2 separate regions of the Homo sapiens genome follow, and region 2 is linked to region 1. Evidence: fine-mapped expression QTL. A gene starts in region 1. The other region holds a variant in brackets. All regions are shown on one strand. Distances are between the middles of the regions. Region 1 holds the start of ARHGEF6 (Rac/Cdc42 guanine nucleotide exchange factor 6). Region 2 overlaps ARHGEF6 (Rac/Cdc42 guanine nucleotide exchange factor 6).

Region 1 (10,035 bases):
TAGCCAAAGCAAGATTAAACAAAAAGAACAAATCTAGAGGCATCACATTACCCGACTTCAAACTATACTACAAGCCTGTAGTTACCAAAATAGCATGGTAGTGGTATAAAAATAGGCACATAAACCAATGACACAGAATAGAGAACCCAGAAATAAAGCCCAATACTTACAGCCAACTGGTCTTTGACAAAGCAAACAAAAACATAAACTGGGGAAAGGACACCCTATTCAACAAATGGTGCTGGGATATTTGGCAAGCCACATGTAGGAGAATGAACCTGGATCCTCATCTCTCACCGCATCTCTCATCTCTCACCTCTCTACAAAAATCAACTCAAGATGGACCAAGGACTTAAATCTAAGACCTGAAATCATAAAAATTCTAGAAGACAACATTGGAAAAACTCTTCTAGGTATTGGCTTTGGCAAAGAGTTCATGACCAAGAACTCAAAAACAAAGGCAACAAAAACAAAGATAAATAGATGGGACCTAATTAAACTAAAAAATTTCTGCACAGCAAAATAAATAATCAGCAGAGTAAACAGACAACTCACAATGTGGGAGAAAATATTCCCAAACTATGCATCTGACAAAGGTCTAATATCCAGAATCGACAAGGAACTCAAACAAATCAGCAAAAATAAATAAATAGATAAATAAATAAATAAATAAATAAATAAATAAATAAATAAAGTAGAAATAAAAATAAACAAATAGGCCGGGTGCGGTGGCTCACGCCTGTAATCCCAGCACTTTGGGAGACCCAGGCGGGCGGATCACCTGAGGTCAGGAGTTTGAGACCAGCCTGGCCAACATAGTGAAACCCTGTCTCTACTAACAACACAAAAATTAGCCAGGCATGGTGGCGGGCGCCTGTATTCCCAGCTACTCAGGAGGCTGAGGCAGGAGAATCGCTGGAACCAGGGAGGTAGAGGTTGCAGTGAGCCAAGATCACACCACTGCATTCCAGCTTGGGCAACAGAGTGAGACTCAGTCTCAAAAAACAAAACAAAACAAAAACAAAAAACAAATAATCCCATCAAAAAGTGGGCTAAGGACATGAATAGACAATTCTCAAAGAACATATACAAATGGCCAAGAAACATATGAAAAAATGCTCAACATCACTAAGCACTGGAAATGCAAATCAAACCACAATGAGATATCACCTCACTCCTGCAGAAATGGCCACAATTAAAAAAAAAACAAAAAATATTAGATGTTGGCATGAATGTGGTGAAAAGGAAACACTTCTACACTGCTGGTGGGAATGTAAACTAGTACAACCACTATGGAAAACCTTAAGTATGGAGATTCCTTAAAGAAGTAAAAGTAGAACTACCATTTGATCCAGTAATCCTACTACTGAGTATCTACCCAGAGGAAAAGAAGTCACTATATGAAAAGGACACTTGCACACACATATTTATAGTAGCACAATTTGCAATTGCAAAGTTATGGACCCAGCCTAAATGCCCATCAGCCAAAGAGTGGATAAAGAAAATGTAATATACATATATATAATATGTATACATACACACACACACACACACACACACACCATGGAATACTACTCAGCCATAAGAAGGAACAAAATAATGGCATTCACGACAACCTGGGTGGAGGTGGAGACCATTATTCTAAGGGAAGTAACTCAGGAATGGAAAACCAAACATCATATGTTCTCACTTATAAGGGGGAGCTAAGCTATGAGGATGCAAAGGCATAGGAATGATGTAATGGGCTCTGGGGACTCAGGGGGAAGGGTGGGAGTAGGGTGAGGGATAAAAGACTCTACATTGGGTACAGTGTACACTGCTCAAGTGATGGATGCACCAAAATCTCAGAAATCACCACTGAATAACTTATCCATGTAACCAAACACCACCTACCTGTTCCTCCCAAACTATTGAAATAATATTTTTTAAAAAGGTCACACGAGTCCTATGAATTCGGTGCCACTATTATTCCCATTTTGTAGGTAGGAAGACTGAGGCCTAGAGTCATAGTTAAGTAACATGCCCAAGGTCACAAAGCTGCTAGTAAGAGAGAACTGAGATTTGAACCCAAAAAGTTTAGCACCACAGTCCATGCTTAAACCACAACTATTTGTCCACGGATAATATGACTAATACTAGTCTATTAATATAGAGTACTTCTTCTGTCCCAGGCCCTATGCTAAGGACTCTACATAAATTATCTCATAGATCTTACAAGGTTGGAGCTCTTGGCCCTAAATTATTATGCAGTATCTTATTTGATTCTTTTTTTTTTTTTCGAGACAAGGTCTCTTTCTGTCATTCAGGCTGGAGTGCAGTGGTGCAATCACAGCTCACTGCAACCTCCACCACCTCTTGGGTTCAAGCGATCCTCCCACCTCAGCCTCCCGAGTAGCTGGGACTACAGGCACAAGCCACCACGCCTGCCTAATTTTTGTATTTTTTGTAGAGTCACCATTTCACCATACTGTCCAGGCTGGTCTCGAACTCCTGGGCTATAGCAATCCTTCTGCCTTGGCCTAGGATTAAAGGCATGAGCCATCATGCCCGGCCTTATTTGATTCTTAAAGCAATCCCATGAGTTGGCTATTAGCATGTCCGTTTTACAGATAAAAATACTGAAGCACAGAGAAGTTAAGCAACTTGATGCTCGTGTGGAAGTATCACCTCCCTTTCAGTAACACTTCCTATACACACTGTAGGGATCCATATAATATAAAATAATGCCACAAAATTTACTATACAATTTCTACCTCAAAGCCAAGTTCTCTCAGCTTTTCAAGGCCTCTGTTCTAAAGTGTTAATGGGAAGGAGTAACAATGGCCTTTCCTCTTTTCTCAACTTGGGAGGATTACAGTGACCCTCTCCAACAGTCAGTGGCCCACTTTTGGTTCCCCTTAGTAGGAGAACACACCCACACAAGCTCTGTCACTGGAAGCCTGTTTACAGGGCTTGGATGCTGTATATAAAAGGCATTATTGTGTGAGTTTTTATTTTGTTTTGTTTTGCTTGGAACTGGTTTCTGGAAAAGACAGACTAGCAATCCATTACTGGGGACCACCAGTCTGCTACCTCTGTTTAACTCAGTGGCCAATGACAGTGAAAATAAACAAGTACTCTTACTACCAATCTTGATTAGCAGAGCAAAAAAACGATGACAACAGGGAAGGCACCCGGGGTAGGCTTACTTCCACTTGGAGGGTTGCACATCCTTTCAGGAAGTCATTGATGTTGTTGATGCAGTCAGCTTCAGTTTGGGGATCCAGACAAAACTAGAGGAACACAGTGAAATGTCACTTGGAGATTGTCATCCCATGCCAAGCAAAGTATACTCATCATTTGCTGATAACTAGAGAAAGCAGGCCTCTTAAGGTGTGGGGCAACACTGCTGTCAATCCAGGAAGAGAAATAACCACTGAAGGAAGTGATGCAAAAATCTAAACGGTCGATCTTTGTTTCAAATGTCACCAAACCTTTAGTGGCAAGCCATGTCTACTTACAAGCTTTCTCTCATGCCTTCTGTTCCAGTGTGCTGATGGCAAATTAGGGAGACCAAGACAGTTTTTTGAGCTTAGTTCTTGCTTTCAAGAAAGGAAGCAATCCCTGGTACCTCTCTCTCCTCCTTCCCCCTGATAATTTAATAAAATTCTATTTCCCCTCTACATTTGACCACACTTCTTTACATTTTATCACTATTTAATCACTCTTTCTCAAGTTTAAGAAATTATAAGTAAATTTATTTGCTCAATAAAAATACAAACTGGCTCATGAAGGCAAAAGTGCTATGCTCACAGTCCATGATGACCTTAAGAAAGTAAATGTAAAATTGTACCTTTAAGCTTACTTAAAGTGCCTACTTTAGAAATTATCTATTCTCGTGATCGTGGATTTCCAGCTATTAAAAATCTTGAATTGTTTTAAAGAGAGTAAAGTTAGTTTCACTTTGAACGCACATTGCATTCGAAACATATATCTGGTTTCTATTGCTTTTACAAACTTTATGTGACATTTTGAATTATTTTTTTCCTAGTTGCTATATAGTCTCTCCTTCAATGGATTTTTCTAAAAGGAAATCTACACTGATTTTAATCAAACTGCCAATAAACACCACCAAGATCTGTTATAAATCATTCTATTTTTCCACAGACTCATAAGTACCCCAAGTTCAAAACATGTCCTCGGTACACAAGGAGATGTAACATGCATCTCCATGATAGAGCAAGCTTGTGATATGAGTGTTCTCCTTGTCCCTTGTTGCCAGTGGTGTCACAGGTTTTCCCTATACTACAATTTGGGGGCCAATTACTAAAGAATAACGTTTCATTTTCTTACATTTTCAAACTACAAAAACAGTAAGAAAGAATGTCTAACTCTTAGAAAAATATTAAAGTAGGAGATTCCCATGGCCTGGGAAATAGAAAAATCTCAAGAGTTACATGATTGCTGCTCTCTGGTGATAAGCAATCCCAAAGAGACTGCAAATTTCCCTTACCTTTTCCACAGAGCCAGGCATGAGTCTGTTGATCAGTTTGCACAGAACTACCCCATTTTTCAGCGAGGACTTTAAAAACTCCTCCGGATCACAGATGGTCTTTTTAGGGGACTCTAAAACTCCCAAAGATATAAGCCATGTCACGATTTGTTCTTCTGGATTCATTACTGAGGACGGTACACTCCAAACAGCACTCTGGGGCAGCTGCAAGGACTAAGCCACATCCGCGATTGCATCTGCTGTTGTCTTCCTTTTTATGAGTTCTCTTCGGGTGCTTGCAGAGCAAAGGTTTAAAGCAACTTTTCTTAAACAACAGCGGAACCCACTCAAAATATGGGATTTTAAAACCACAGAGATCACGGTCCAAGATGTGGAAACAGATAAGAATTAATTTAACAATCCTGGATAACGCTGGTTTTTCCTTTTCAAAACCTGCAAAACAAATTCGTTAGGATAAAAAAAAAGAAGAAACGCACATGCACACACGCATACACACACACGCACACAGAGTGCAAGAAGTTATAAGGGAAGAAAGTGAAAAGGATGCTGGGGAGGGAGGAGAGACAAGCAAGCAAGTGCTTTGGGAAACAGAGGTGAGCCAGCACTTCAGGGGACCTTGGAAATGAGACACTCATGGGCCAGTCTGGGAAAACACTGTCAATAAATAGTCTAGCCCCAGTGAAAATCTGGCTTCTGTTAGGAGGACGATGCCAACTGGCTCTTAGGTCAGACAGATCTGAGCCTCATGGGGAGATGTGCTGGCACAACAGGGCTCAAAGAAGGTAGACAGAAAATTCTTCCAAGAAATAGCCGGATGTCCTCATAGTATCTCCCAGAGATGGTGTGTCACGATCATTCCTTGCAAAACACGTTGAGTTGCATGGTGACAACGTGCCAAGCAAACGAAGATTATGCCTGCTGTCAGCCATCACTGTGTATAAGCAGAAGCTAGAAGAATGGCATTTTACTTTGCAGCCAAAAAGCTATGTTTAGGGAAATAGGCTAAGGATAACATCTGACATCCTGTTTACTTGCATTCTTTAGCAATTCTTTTTCTGGACCTGGTTCCACTACATAATCCAGCTGCAGTACCCTTAGCAAAGGCTCAGACTCAGTCACATAAGTGGGTAAAATACACTTGAAAAAATAGAATGTTTGAGAACAAAAGAGCACTTGTCCTCTGTCTACACTACAATATGGAAGATTCTTATTTTCCCAACAACAACAACAACAAAAAAACACTTTGCACTTAAAATACTGCTCTGAAAAAAAAACTGTCTATAACAAGAGATCTTCATCATTCTCAAACATTTTCAGAACCACTTGAAATAGGCATACTATTGGGAAATTTATGATAAGGCCAACTTTAATAGTATAACCCTATGTTGGCAAATGTGTGGCACTTACCATGATTACCTCTCCTCGTGCATGGGAGACATCAGATCATGTATAGCTCTTTCCTACTAAGCCTCAGAATTCTTTTCAACACAGCTTCAGGCATCTACTACCAAAGAATCAGCTTAGATAACCCTACTAAACATTTTCAAAGCTGCCCTTTCTTGCTCTGTCAGGACACTTGTCACACTTTACTATTATCACTTGTTGATCTGATGATCTGACTCCTCCACAAGAATGTAAACTTCCTAAACTCGGGGTCTTGTTTTTTTTTATTTAACACTGTGTTACCAGCAGACTGCCAGGTATACACAGTAGATGTTAAAAAATGCTGAATGAATAAATGAATGTATTCAGATGGTGTCCCTGATATAGACAGTAACTGATTATAGCAAGGATTTTTTGTTTGTTGGTTGGTTTAAATGGCTTAAAACAAACATTTTTTCTTGTTAATGATTTTTACCATTTTATTAAGCTGTAATTGACACATAAGGAACTGCATATATATGATTTAATGAATTTTGACATATACATACATCTTTGATACAATCACACAAATGCAATCCAGATAAGCCTTTCCATCACCCCCAAAATTGTCCTCGTGCCCTTTCAATTCTTTCTTTCCTCTTTGCCTCCAAATGCCAGGCAACCACCAATCTATTTTCAGTGTCTATAGATTAGTTTGCATTTTCAAGAATCTTATATAAATGGAAGTACACAGTATGGTACTATCTTTTTTCTGGCTTCTTAACTCAACATCATCATTTTCATACTCATTCATGTTATTGTGTCTGTCCATAGTTCTATAACAAGGTTTGCTTGATGTACTTGTGACTTAAGCAAAATAAGTATAATCAATCAAAAGTTTTCATTGACGTTGACCCATGGCCAAATCTATGTAATGGAAATAAAAACAGAATACATTTGTTGATAAATAAAATTCCCAAATCTGACGAACTTAAACACATTTTTATATGTCATCTGAACAGTTTTCACAACTGCTCATCAAAATTTTACTCTACAGACAAACAAAATCTGGCAGTATTATTGAGGTATCACTTACATCTTCTGATGAAGAACAAAGCCTGAGTAAGTTTTGTGAACCCAGCCTCCTCCAAAACAGTCTTGAGTTCACCAAGGTCATCTGGATAAAACTCTGCCTCATTTTGGACACTCACTATAGCAAATATTACTATGAGTAATAAAGTATATCAGAATGGCAAGGCCACTGCCTCAAGGCAAAAGAACCAGTTCTATTTGTATAAAGATTGGAAGTTACAGTTGGTGTGGTAAAATGTCAACAAAGCAAGGAATTCCAGGGCAGTGGCAAGCATATAGGTGAAATGGGTACCCATGAAACCCAGGCTGGTTAGGGACTCAAATGAAGCTAGAAAGGAGCTGATGAACTGAGGGAATAGGGGAAGAGGGGGAATTCAAAGACTGGGGGTCACAGCAACACAAAGAGCAGGCTTCACACAAGAGCATGAGAAAAAAAAGCAAAGATCTCTCACCCTACCTCAGATCCTCAGTACCACACCCTCTGGGCCACTGAACCTGCCTCTTCAAGGGCTTTCCACCTCCATCCTCTCATCCTAATGAACTCTCTAACAGGGCACATTTGGGTTGATTTTCCAAAAACACCTCTAGTGTTAATACCCCTGTTCAAAAACCCTCAAAGGCTCTCTATTGCCTAAAGCAGGAATTGACAAAAAACAATGTTCATATGATCATCTCCTGTGAGGCATAAAGGAGAAAGGAAGGTGAGAGTGGAACTTAAGCTAAAATAGGTAACATTTCATGAAAAATCAAAAGATCTTCAGGAAATAAGGCAAATGTGAACATTTGTTAAGACTGAATGCTGGGTACACTGGTACCTGTTTTACTATTTAGTTTTGTGTGTTTAAAATGTTACTAACCGATTCTCTTTCATTTCAAATCTACTAAGGCACTTACTAAAAAAGAATATTTGGGAGCTCTCTTCCCAGATACTCCAGTTCAGAAGATCTGCAGTGGGAAAAAGGAATTTGTGTTATCAAAGTATCCCACTTGATTCTGATGCAGATAGACCAAGGTCACACTTAGAGAAATGAGTTTATTGGTCTCTAACCTTCTACACCACTCTAATTTCTGCCAACACTTGGGTCATTTCAATATCCACAAGAACAACAATCCAACATCAAGACCTCTCAGTTCCTTGAACTTCTCAACCTGTAATCAATTTATTACCTCTCATTTCCCCTTTATGCCTATTCTGTGAAATGGACCTGGGACCTTGAAATATTTCTGACTTTGCCAGCTGGCATGATACAAAGTTTTATCAGTAGGCAGTGGTGGAGAGACATTGCAGGAAGAAGGGGTTTTACTTCCTGTTTTCTGTGCGCTCACTCCACAAGCTCCTGCTGAGCTCCCAGCTTTCCTATTGCCCACCTTCTGCAGCACTGGTTTTCCCAACAAACAGTAGGTAGCAACCTCCCCAGGCACTACCCTTGAGTGTTTAGGCAGCAAAGAATCTCTGATGAGACAGACACCTTCCATGTGAACCAGCACCGTAGAGGGGTATATTTCAGCAAGTTCCAGAGAATGTACATCCAACAAGTTCCACCAACTCAGCACCAGAGCAACTTCTCCAATAAGGCCTGGATCTCGACCGTGGGTGGAGAGGAGGGTTATCACAGCTCTAGAGGTATCGGCCATTACATATTATTTTTATATTGTCTGCTATTTATATCTGCTATCCCATACTTTTTAGAGTTTCCTTTATTTATTACTAACCAATTCTTCAACACTCCAATCCCCTGTTATTGTTAATTCTTTATGTTAAACTCTTCTTGTTAAAATTACTATGTAGTAGGCTGGGCACGGTGGTTCACACCTGTAATCCCAGTACTTTGGGAGGCCAAGGTGGGCAAATCACCTGAGGTCAGGAGTTTGAGACCAGTCTGGCCAACATGGTGAAACCCAGTCTCTAATAAAAATACAAAAATTAGCCAGGCATGGTGGCGGGCATCTGTAATCCCAGCTACTCTGGAGGCTGAGGCAGGAGAATCGCTTGAACCTGGGAGTCAGAGTTTGCAGTGAGCTGAGATCGTGCCATTGCACTCCAGCCTGGGCGACAAGAGCCAGACTCCATCTCAAGAAAAAAAAAAAAATACTATGTAGTGTCTATGTTCTGATTGGACACCAACTGATACACCTTGTTATCTTAAATGTATACTTCCTCTCCACTTTAGCTAACCTCTTGGAAGGTTACACCTTGTACTTTTTTATCACACAAATTTCTCTGTCTCCTAAGTCATGAATTCCAACATTAGTTTTTTTTTTTTTTTTTTTTTTCGAGACAGAGTCTCGCTCTGTCACCCAGGCTGGAGTGCAGTGGCGCCATCTTGGCTCACTGCAACCTCCACCTCCCAGGTTCAAGCGATTCTCCTGCCCCAGCCTCCTGAGCAGCTGGGACCACAGGCGCGCACCACCAGGCCTGGCCAATTTTTTTTGCCTTTTTGGTAGAGACGGGGTTTCACCGTGTTGGTCAAGCTGGTCTCGAACTCCTGACTTTGTGATCCACCCGACTCAGCCTCCCAAAGTGCTGGGATCACAGGCATGAGCCACTGTGCCCGACCCAACATTATATTTTCTAAACAACCTACCATCTTTCCAGCTTGCTTGTTACTCCCACTACAATTCCTTGACCTCATAGGTATCTGCAAATCTTTTTTTTTCTAAAATGATTATACAAATTTACATTCCCACAAGCAGGGTATGATTTTCCATTGCTCCATGTCATAGGTAAGACTTGATATTTCAGACTTAAAATTTTGTTATTTCATGGGTATGAAATTTATATTTCTATGATTACTAATGAGGTTGAGCATTTAATATGCTTATTGGCCATATATGTTTCCTCTTCTGTGAGATACTCCTTCCTACTGCCCATTTTTCTATTGGGTTGTTTGTCTTTTTGTTATTGGTTTGTGAAAGTTTGTTATATATTATAGATACGAAATTTATGTCATTTATGTGTGTTTGCAAATATCTTCTTATATCTTTGTTTTTCATTTTATGTGTATTTTAAAGAACAGAGGGTCTTGATTTTTAAAAATAAAATACTTTATCTCACTGTTGCGTAAAATAAATGTAGAATTTGGGTTTCC
Region 2 (10,035 bases), 62 kb before region 1:
CTCAGTTAGTTAACAAAGAATCATTATTCCTCTTTTATGGAGGAGAAAATTGAGGCCAGCTACCTTAGACATAGAGACTTAATGTCAGTATAATTTAAGGATCACTGTGATAACAAACATCACAAGAGATTTTTGTTTAAGTTATGTTTGTGATAAGACCTTTGGGGAACAAAATCTGAGGATACAGTGAATTTTTAAGCAGAGTTAAAACTAGTCTTTTCTTAAAGGCAAAAGGTGCTACCATAAACAATTCAAAGAACAAAGTAGGCTGAAGTGTGAGGAATTTAACAAGAGAAATAAAAATTATCATTATTATTATTAATGTAATTAGAATCCTATAGGCAAAACAACCAATATGGGGGATCACAATTTCTCTTCCCCTACCAGTTCTAGGGTCATGTCACAACCCATTTCCAAGCCTCTTCTAGTGACAGGTAAAACCTTCATTTAATACCTAATGTAAATGACGGGTTGATGGGTGCAGTGGGCCAGCATGGCACATGTATACCTATGGAACGAGCCTGCACATTGTGCACATGTACCCTAGAACTTAAAGTATAATAATAATTTTAAAAACCTTCATTTAAGCTCTTAGGGACAACCCAGTTAACATTCTGGTATATTTTCTTTCATATATTCTAATTCATTCAACAAAATCGACTGAGTGCCTATTCTGCCAACTGCCGTGCTGCCCACAGGGAGTTTATACTGTATTTGCAGAGACATTAAACAGAGAGTTACAAGACAGAGTGAAGTGTCCTTAACTAGGAGAAGTGTATTAGCCTACCAATATGCCAGCCATATACTCACAAGACAATGCATGATGATCTGCTTTTGAAAGGTGGAATGGTCAAAACAAGTGGAGATCCTGGTAACCGTGGGTTCTCTGGGAAACCACTGGAGTGCAGGGTGGTAGTCCTGACTCTGCTGCTGACTGAGAGGTTGCTTCAGTTTAAAACTTTGCTTACATCATCTCAGATTATGATATTGCACCTACCTGGGGGACCATTATGAAGATGTAGTGACACACTGTACAGATAGGTGCTGGGTAAGTGGGAAACAGACCTACCAATTTAAAGGGTTAAAAAAGGGTTTCTCAATAGCAACATTATTAACCTTTCAAACCAGATAAGTCTTTGTTGTGATGGAATGCCCATATCATTGCCATGACATTGCCAAATGTCACCTGAAAGGCAATATTGCCCCCAGTTGAGAATCACTGGCTTAGAAGAACACAGGATGGCTTCAAAAGCTCGGGCTTAAATTGTAACCCCTATACCCAGCCACTCATGTCTACTTTCAGTTCCTCTATTCCTCAGAAACTACCCTCTAAAAGTGTAAATGCAGGGTTCTGGAGGTATTGATGTTCTCGGAAATTAACCCAGTAATGGAATAGAAATATTCCCCTCTATAGAAAGTCCAAGCGCGAGAATGGAAATTAGAAACTACTTTGAGATGAATGAAAATGAAAACACAACATACAAAAACTCATGGGGTGCAGTTAAACAGTGCTTAAAGAAAACTATATACTTATAAATGCCTATTTTAAAAAAGAAAAAAAAGACTTTCATTTTTCAGTCTGACATGTAAGGAGCTTAGAAGTCATTACTCCATCCTAACAGGAAGGAAATAGCTAAACAAACTGAAATAAACCATCGTTTTCTCTTAAATCTGTCAGAAAAGAGAGGTCACAGGGAAAACTGCTACTCCAAAAATTGGAGAAACAGGCAGATAAAGAGAATCACAAATTACCAGAGCAGAAGTCCACAAGCAGAAGCCTCCACAGGAACCAGCACTAGGGCAGAAAAACCTACACTGTAATTGACAAACTTCTGGGGGCTCTGTACAGGCAAGTCTGAGAGTTAGGAACTCCAGGGGCCCAATATTAGGACAGCACACTCACACTTTTGTGAGTTTAAGCTCCAGTTTCTCTCAGTGAAGATTAGAGGAAAATACCCTCATGCTTCAGGCAGAGGGAGGGAAAAAGTTGCCTTTTTGAATATGCCAGAGCACTCTATTCTTCTTAACAAGGTCTGCCCTCAGGAGAAACTATTTTACCAGAGCATAACCTATTTTTTGTTTGTTTGTTTGCTTTGTTTGTTTGTTTCTGTTTTTGTTTTTTGAGACGCAGTTTCGCTTTTGTTGCCCAAGCTGGAGTGCAATGGCACAATCTCGGCTCACTACAACCTCCACCTCCTGGGTTCAAGCCATTCTCCTGCCTCAGCCTCCCTAGTAGCTGGGATTACAGGCATGCGCCATCACGCCCAGCTAATTTTGTATTTTTAGTAGAGATGGGGGTTTCACCATGTTGGTCAAGCTGGTTTCGAGCTCCTGACCTCAGGTGATCCGCCTGCCTTGGCCTCCCAAAGTGCTGGGATTACAGGCGTGAGCCACTGCGCCCGGCCTGAGCATAACCTATTGAATTTTTATCAGATGCTAACTGTTATGGGGGAAGGTCAATAAGCAACTCCAGCCAGCTCTAGCCTTCCACATGGGGGAAGGAAGATAACCCAACTCCAGCCCTTTCTAGCCATCCTGTCCCACCTAAGCGGGAGAACTAGGAAGCACGGGTGAAGTTCACAGTCCAGGGACACAAGCTCATTAAAAACTGAGACCTAATCTGGAAACATAGAATGTTTCCCCTCCTTCTACACCTTACCACCACATTACTAAAGGATTATTTACCACAGTTCCTTTACCCAGTACATCATGTCAGGCTTCCAACAACAATTTACAAGGCATATTAAAAGGCAAAAAATACAGTATGAAGAGACAAAGCAAGCATCAGAACTTAAGTCAGGTAACACAGGAATGTTAGAATTATCAGACCAGTGTTTTTAAGTAACTGTGATTAATATACTAAGGACTCTAACAGAAAAAGTAGACAACGTGCAAGAATAGATGGATATTATAAGCAGAGAAACAGACATTCTAAGAAAGAATCAAAAAGCAATGCTAGAGATTAAAAACACTGTAACAGAAATGAAGAATGCCTGCACATGATGGACTCAATAGTGATCTGGGCATGGCTGAGGAAAGAATCTTTGAGCTTGAGAATATGTCAATAGAAACTGCTACAACCAAAAAGCAAAGAGGAAAAAGACTGGGGGTAAAAATAGAAGAGAATATGAAAGAACTGTGGGACAACTACAAAAGGTGCAACATTCATGTAATGTGGAAATATCAGGAGAGGAAAGAGAAAATAATAGAAGAAATATTTGAAACAATAGTGGTTGAGAATTTACTCAAAATTAGTCAGACACCAAATCACAGATCCAGGAAGCTCAGAGACCAAGTAGGATAAATGCAAAAGAAAATTCTAATCATGTGATATTCAAACTCCAGAAAATCAAAAATAAAGAAAAAAGTATTGAAAGAAGCCATGGGAAACAAACAGTTTATCTATACAGAAGTTCAAATAAAAGTTACATCTGACCTCTCCTCAGAAACAATGCAAGCAAGAGGAGAGTTGAGTGAAATATTTAAAGTGTTGAGAGAAAAACCCACTAACCTTGAGTTCTGTATCTTGTGAAATTATCCTTCAAAAGTGAAAGACATATCAAGACTTTTTCAGACAAACAAAAACTGAGGGAAACTGTCACCATTAGACCTGCCTTGCAAGAAATGTTAAAAGAAGTTCTTCACAGAGAAGAAAAACAATATAGGTCAGAAATCTGAATCTACATGAAGAAGGAAAGAATATTAGAGAAGGGATAAGTAAAGATAAAATAAAAACTTTTTTCTTATTTTTAATTGACCTAATAGATAACAGTTTATTCAAAATAATAATAGCAGCAATGTATTTGATTATGTGTGTGTATATACTAATGTGTATTTATGTGTAAGTAAAATGAGTGACAGCGATCATACAAGGGATGGGAGGTAATAATTAGGAATACTATGTTATTATAAGGTACTTGCACTACCTGCGAATATAGTATGTATCTTTGTATAGTATTATATGAAAGTGAACTGGGACTAGCTATCAAGGCATAGAGCAACCACTAAAAATGTTTTTCTTAAAGAAATATAACTGATAAGTGAAAAAAGAGAAATGGAATCATATAAAATGCTCAATTAAAACAAAAAGCAAAAAAATGTGGAAGACAAAAAGCGAACAACGAAAAGGGCAACAAATAGAAAACAGTAACAAGTATGGTAGGCATTAATCCACCTATATCAATAATCACTTTAAATGTCAGTGGTCTAAATGTACCAATGAAAAGACAGACATTTTCAGAGTGAATCAAAAAATAAGACCCAACCATATGCTGTTAATAAGAAATTCAATTTAAATATAAAGACACTTATAAATTAAAAGTAAAGGGATGAAAAAGGAGATATCATGTTCATACTAATCAAAAGAAAGCTGGAGTGGCTATGTTAATTTTAGACAGAGCAAACATTAGAGCACGAAAAATTATCAGGAATAAAAGAGGCATTACATAATAATAAAGAGGTCAGTTCTCCAACAAGACATAACAGTCCTTAATATGTATGTGCCTAAAAACAGAATCAAACTACATGAGGCACAACTTTTATAATCAAATGAAAACTCTTCCATCAAAATTGCAGTGGAAGCGTTCTCCCTTCAATCAATAATAAAAAAAAATTAACACTCTAGTTCCTTGTCAGTGCAAATGACAATAAATTTGCTTATTTAACCCA[T/C]TCTCATTCAAAGACCAGGTGAATAAAGTATATTGATAAATCTGAAAGTATATTGATATATCTAACTTCCCAAAGAATGACAATAACAATTATGAAAAACTGTTAAATAATTTATACAAATTTCTTTATGCATAGCTTTTTAGAACTTTTAGTATGATAAATATATTTTGAATCTCTAAGCAGGGCCAATATGATATTGTGTTTTTCAAACATATTTGACAATGGCATTGTGTATTTTTTAGGCATTTTACACACATTGGTACTTGCTAATTGCTATTCCAAGAAATGAACAAAGGAACAAAAGAAATGAACAAAAGAAACATTTTCTTTGGCTGAGTTATATTTTAATATTATGCATTTCAGTGAGAACTGACATTAGAAGTAGCTATATAAAAGGCCATCATAGTTGTAAACTATTGTTGTAAACTATAGTTAAAGACATTGTCCAGTATGTTGACTGGCATTCTTGGAGTAAATTCCTCCTGTGATTTAATACTTGGTAAAAAAAAAAAAAAAAAAAAAGTGAGGCAAAAACTGCTAGAACTTCAAGTAGAAATAGATAAATTTATTGTAGTTGAGACTTCAATACCCCTCTATCAGAAATGGAGAGATCCAACAAGCAGAAAATCAGTAAGGACATACTAGAACTCAATAGTACCATCAAGCAACTGGATAGAGTTGGCATCTATAGACTACTTTATCCAACAACAGCAGATTACATATTCTCCTCAAGCCTACATGAAACATTCCTCAAGACAGACCACATTATGATCCATAAAACCCACCTTAGCAAATTTAAAAGAATAGAAATCATGCAATCTATGATCTCAGACGACAATGTAATCAAACTAGAAATCAATAACAGAAAAATACTTGGAGATTAAACAACACATCTCAAAATACATTTATTTTCTAAAAAGATATTTCAAGAGAAATTTTAAAATATTTTGAACTAAATGGAAATGAAAGAAGAACATTAAAATGTGCGGAATGCAGTGAAAGCAGTGCTTGTAGGGAAATTTATAGCACTGAATGCATATATTAGGAAAGAAGAAAGATCTAAAATAAATAATCTAAACTTCCACCCTAGGAAACTACAAAAAGAAGAGCAAACTAAATCTAAAGCACACAGAAGAAAAGAAATAATAAAAATTAGGGCAGAAATCAATGAGATTGAAAACAGAAAATCAGTAGAGGAAGTTAAAACCAAAAGGTGGCTCTTTGAAAAGATCAACAAAATTGATGAACTTCATTGAAAAAAAGAGAGAAGATACAAACTGTTAGTATCAGAAATGAAATGGCAGGATATCACTAGCGATCCCATGGACATTAAAATAATGTTAAAGGAATATTATTAATAACTCTGCCTACAAATTTGATAACCTAGATTAAATGGACCAGCTTTTTAAAGATACAATCTGCCAACACTCACAAGAGAAGAAATAGATAATCTGAATAGGCCTACATCTAGTAAAGAAAATGAATTGGTAATTAACATCGTTCCAAAACAGAAAGCATTAAGCCCAGATAGGTTCACTGGTAAATTCTACTAAACATTTAAGGAAGAAATTATATCAATTCTTTACAATCTCTTCCAAAACACAGAAGCAGAGAGAATACATACTTCCTAACTCATTTTATGAAGCCAGAATTATCCCAATACCCAAACCAAAGACATTACAAGAAAACTACAAACCAATATCTCTAATGAACATAGTTACAAAAATCATCAACAAAATATTAGCAAATAAAATCCAGCAATAGATAAAAAGAATGCTACAACACAGCCAAGTGTGATTTAACAAAGTATGCAAGACTAGTTCAACATTCCAAAAAATCACTAATGTAATCTATCACATCAACAGGCTAGAGAAGGAAAATCACATGATCGTATCAACAGATGCAGAAAAGGCATTTGACAATATACAACATCCATTCATGATTTTTTTTTAATTCTCAGAAAACTAGGAATAGTTTCTCAACTTGATAAAGAACAGCTACGAAAAAAAAAGGGAAAAAAAAGCTAACAAAAAACCCCGACATCTAACATCATACTTAATGGTAAGAAGCCAGATGCTTTCCTACTAAGATTAGGAACAAAACAAGAGTGTTCCCTCACACCACTCCTTTTCAACATCATATTGAATGTCCTAGCTAATGCAATAAGAAAAAAATAAAAGGTATACACATTGGGAAGGAAGAAATAAAACCGTCTTTATTTGTAGATGACATGATTGTATATGTAGAAAATCTGAATAAATCAAAAAAATTTCTGGAGCTAATGAGTGATTATAACATGGTTGCAAGATGCAAAGTCAATACACAAATGTCAATCATTTTCCTTTATATCAGCAATAAACAAAATCTGAAACAAAAAAATAATATTTAGATTAGCACCTCTAAAAATGAAATACTTAGGTATAAATCTAAGAAAATATGTACAAGATCTATACAAATAAAACTACAAAACTCTGGTAAAAGAAATCAAAGAACTAAATAAATGGGGAGATATCCTATATTCATGGGTAGAAAGACTCAATATTATCAAGATGTCAGTTATTTCCAACTTGATCTATAGATTCAACATAATTCCAATCAAAATCTCAGTAAGTTATTTTGTGGATATTGACAGATTCAAATTCCAAAAATAAAAATAAAACCAGTATGTTGAAGAGATATCTGCACTCCCATGTTCATTTCAGCATTATTCATGATAGCCAAAATATGAAATCAGCGGATGCATGGACAGAGAAAATATGGTATAAAAACACAATGGAGGCTGGGCATGGTGGCTCATGCCTATAATCCCAGCACTTTGGGAGGCTGGGGAGAGCAGATTGCTTGAGCTCAAGAGTTTGAGACCAGCCTCGGCAACATGGTGAGACCCTGTCTCTACAAAAAACTAAAAAATTAGCCAGGTGTGGTGGTGCACCCCTGTAGCCCCAGCTACTTGGGAGGCTGAGGTGGAAGGATTGTTTGAGTCCAGGGGGCAGAGGTTGCAGTGAGCCAGAATCACACCACTGCACTCCAGTCTGAGTGACAGAGCAAGACCCTGTCTCAAAACAAAACAAAACACAATGGAATACTATTCAGTCATTAAAAAGATGAAAATCCTGCCATTTGCAACAACATGGATGAACCTAGAAGACATTATGTTAAGTGAAATAAGTCAGGCATAGTAAGAAAGATACCACATGATCTCATCATATGTGTAATCTTAAAAAGTTGATCTCATAGAACTAGATAATAGAATGGTGGTTACAAGGGGCTGGGGAAGTTGGGGGAGCTGGTTGGGATGATGTTGATCAAGGGATATGAAACATCTGTTAGGAGGAATAAGTTCAAGAGAGCTCTTGTGCAACATTGTGACTATAGTAAATAACAATATATTGTACTCTTAAAAAATGCCTAGAGAGTGAATGTTAATTGTTCTTACCATAAAAATGATAACTCTGTGAGGTAATATGTGTGTTAATTAGCTAGCTTTAGTCATTCCACAATGACTAAACATGACAGAACATCATGTTGTACACAATTAATACATATAATTTTATCTGTCAATTAAAAAAAAAGACCATTCAGTGGGGAGAGAACTTTTTTTTCAACAAATGGTGCTGAGAAAACTGGATATTCACATGCAAAAGAAAGAATTTACACCCCTACCTCATACCATATACAAAAACTAACTCAAAATGGATTTCAGAGTTAAATCTACAAAAGTCTTAAAGTAAACAGAGGAGGAAATCTTCATGACTTTCAATTTGGCAATGGATTCTTGGGTGACACAAAAAGCAAAACAAAACAAAAATAAGTAAATTGGAATTCATCAAAATTAAAAACTTTTGTGTGTTAAATGACATTATCAAGAAAGTGAAAAGACAACTCATAGAATGGAAGAAATATTTGCAAATCATATATCTGATAAGAGTCTAGTATCCACAATATATATAGAACTATTACAACTCAACAACAAAAATAATCAATTAAAGTTGGCAAAGAATTTGAATAGAAATTTCTCCAAAGAAGATATACAAATGGCCAATAAGCATACCCAACATCATTAACTATTAGGAAAATGCTAATCAAAACTACAATTAGATACTACTTGATACTCAATAGGGTGGTTATATTACAAAGAAAAAAAAGCAGACAATAACAAGTGTTGGTGAGGATGTAGAGAAACTGAAACTCTTACAATTGCTGGTAAGAATGTAAAATGGTACTGCTACTGTGATAAACAGTTTGGCCATTCCTCAGAAAGTCAAACATAGAATTACCATGTGACCCAGCAATTCTGCTCCTAAAGAAGTGAAAACATATGTCCACACAAAAACTTGCACATGAATGTTCACAGCAGCATTTGTAATAATAACCAAAAAGTGGCAGCAACCCAAAGTCCATCAACTGATAAATAGATAAATAAAAGCTGGTCTAACCATACAATGGAATATTACTTAGCTATAAAAAGAAAGAAGTACTGATACATTCTGCAACATGGATGAACCTTGAAAATATTATGCTAAGTGAAAGAAACCAAACACAAAATATCACACATTATAGAATTCCATGTATGTAAAACTTCCAGAATAGGCAAAATCCATACAGACAGAAAGTAGATTAGTGGTTGCCAAGGGCTGGAGGGAATGGGAAATGGGAAGTGACTGCTAATGGATAGAAGGTTTTTTGGTGGGGTGATAACAATGTTGTGAAATTAGATGAGATAGTGGCGATCATTGTGCAACTCTGTGAATACACTAATAACAGTGAATTGCACACTTTAAAATGGTGAATTTTATGCTATGTGAATTGTACCTCAGTAAAGCTATTATTTAAAAACAAAGCACAAATTTCTCACCTGTCAATAAAAACTCTTCTGTTTTTTCTCTGACTCCAAGTCCTTATGCAGGGTCATGGCCCTCAATACTCAAGCTTGTTCATCATGATAGCTCTTTGTCCATCTGTGTTGTTGTTCACTGCAGTTCCTCAAGTAATCACTTATACTCAGCACTGATATTCATTTTTTTTAATTCATAGAAATGGAGAGAAATGCACTAGAATTCAACAGTACTATATTTTATTAAGTAAAAAGGAGGAGGTAAGGCTCATATGCACATTGCTTTATTTAAAATATTTATTTGGGCCAGGGGGAGTGGCTCATGCCTATAATTACAGCACTTTGGGAGGCCGAGGCAGGCAGATCACTCGAGGCCAGGAGTTTGAGACCAGCCTGGCCAACATGGTGAAACCCCCATCTCTACTAAAAATACAAAAATTAGCTGGGCATGGTGGCTCATGCCTGTAATCCCAGCTACTTGGAAGGCTGAGGCAGGAAGATTGCTTTTACCTGGGAGGTGGAGGTTGCAGTGA

The links. PIP is the estimated chance that this variant, and not a neighbour inherited with it, causes the effect. A credible set is the group of variants that fine-mapping cannot tell apart.
Region 2: its variant is the best candidate, but not a certain one, in a credible set for the expression of ARHGEF6 in tibial nerve (GTEx, PIP 0.50).

Annotation. Positions count from the first base shown.
Region 1 is chrX:136,776,226-136,786,260 of GRCh38, forward strand. ARHGEF6 (Rac/Cdc42 guanine nucleotide exchange factor 6) reads right to left here and starts at 4,707. Exons shown (of 22, transcript NM_004840.3): 1 at 4,493-4,707; 2 at 3,189-3,272. The coding sequence starts at 4,657. RefSeq lists an enhancer at 3,143-3,362.
Region 2 is chrX:136,713,836-136,723,870 of GRCh38, forward strand. The region is part of intron 6 of ARHGEF6 (Rac/Cdc42 guanine nucleotide exchange factor 6); the gene reads right to left. Among named protein-coding and RNA genes, the nearest start is that of ARHGEF6, 62 kb to the right of the region's middle. The variant T/C (reference allele first, on the strand shown) is at 4,669.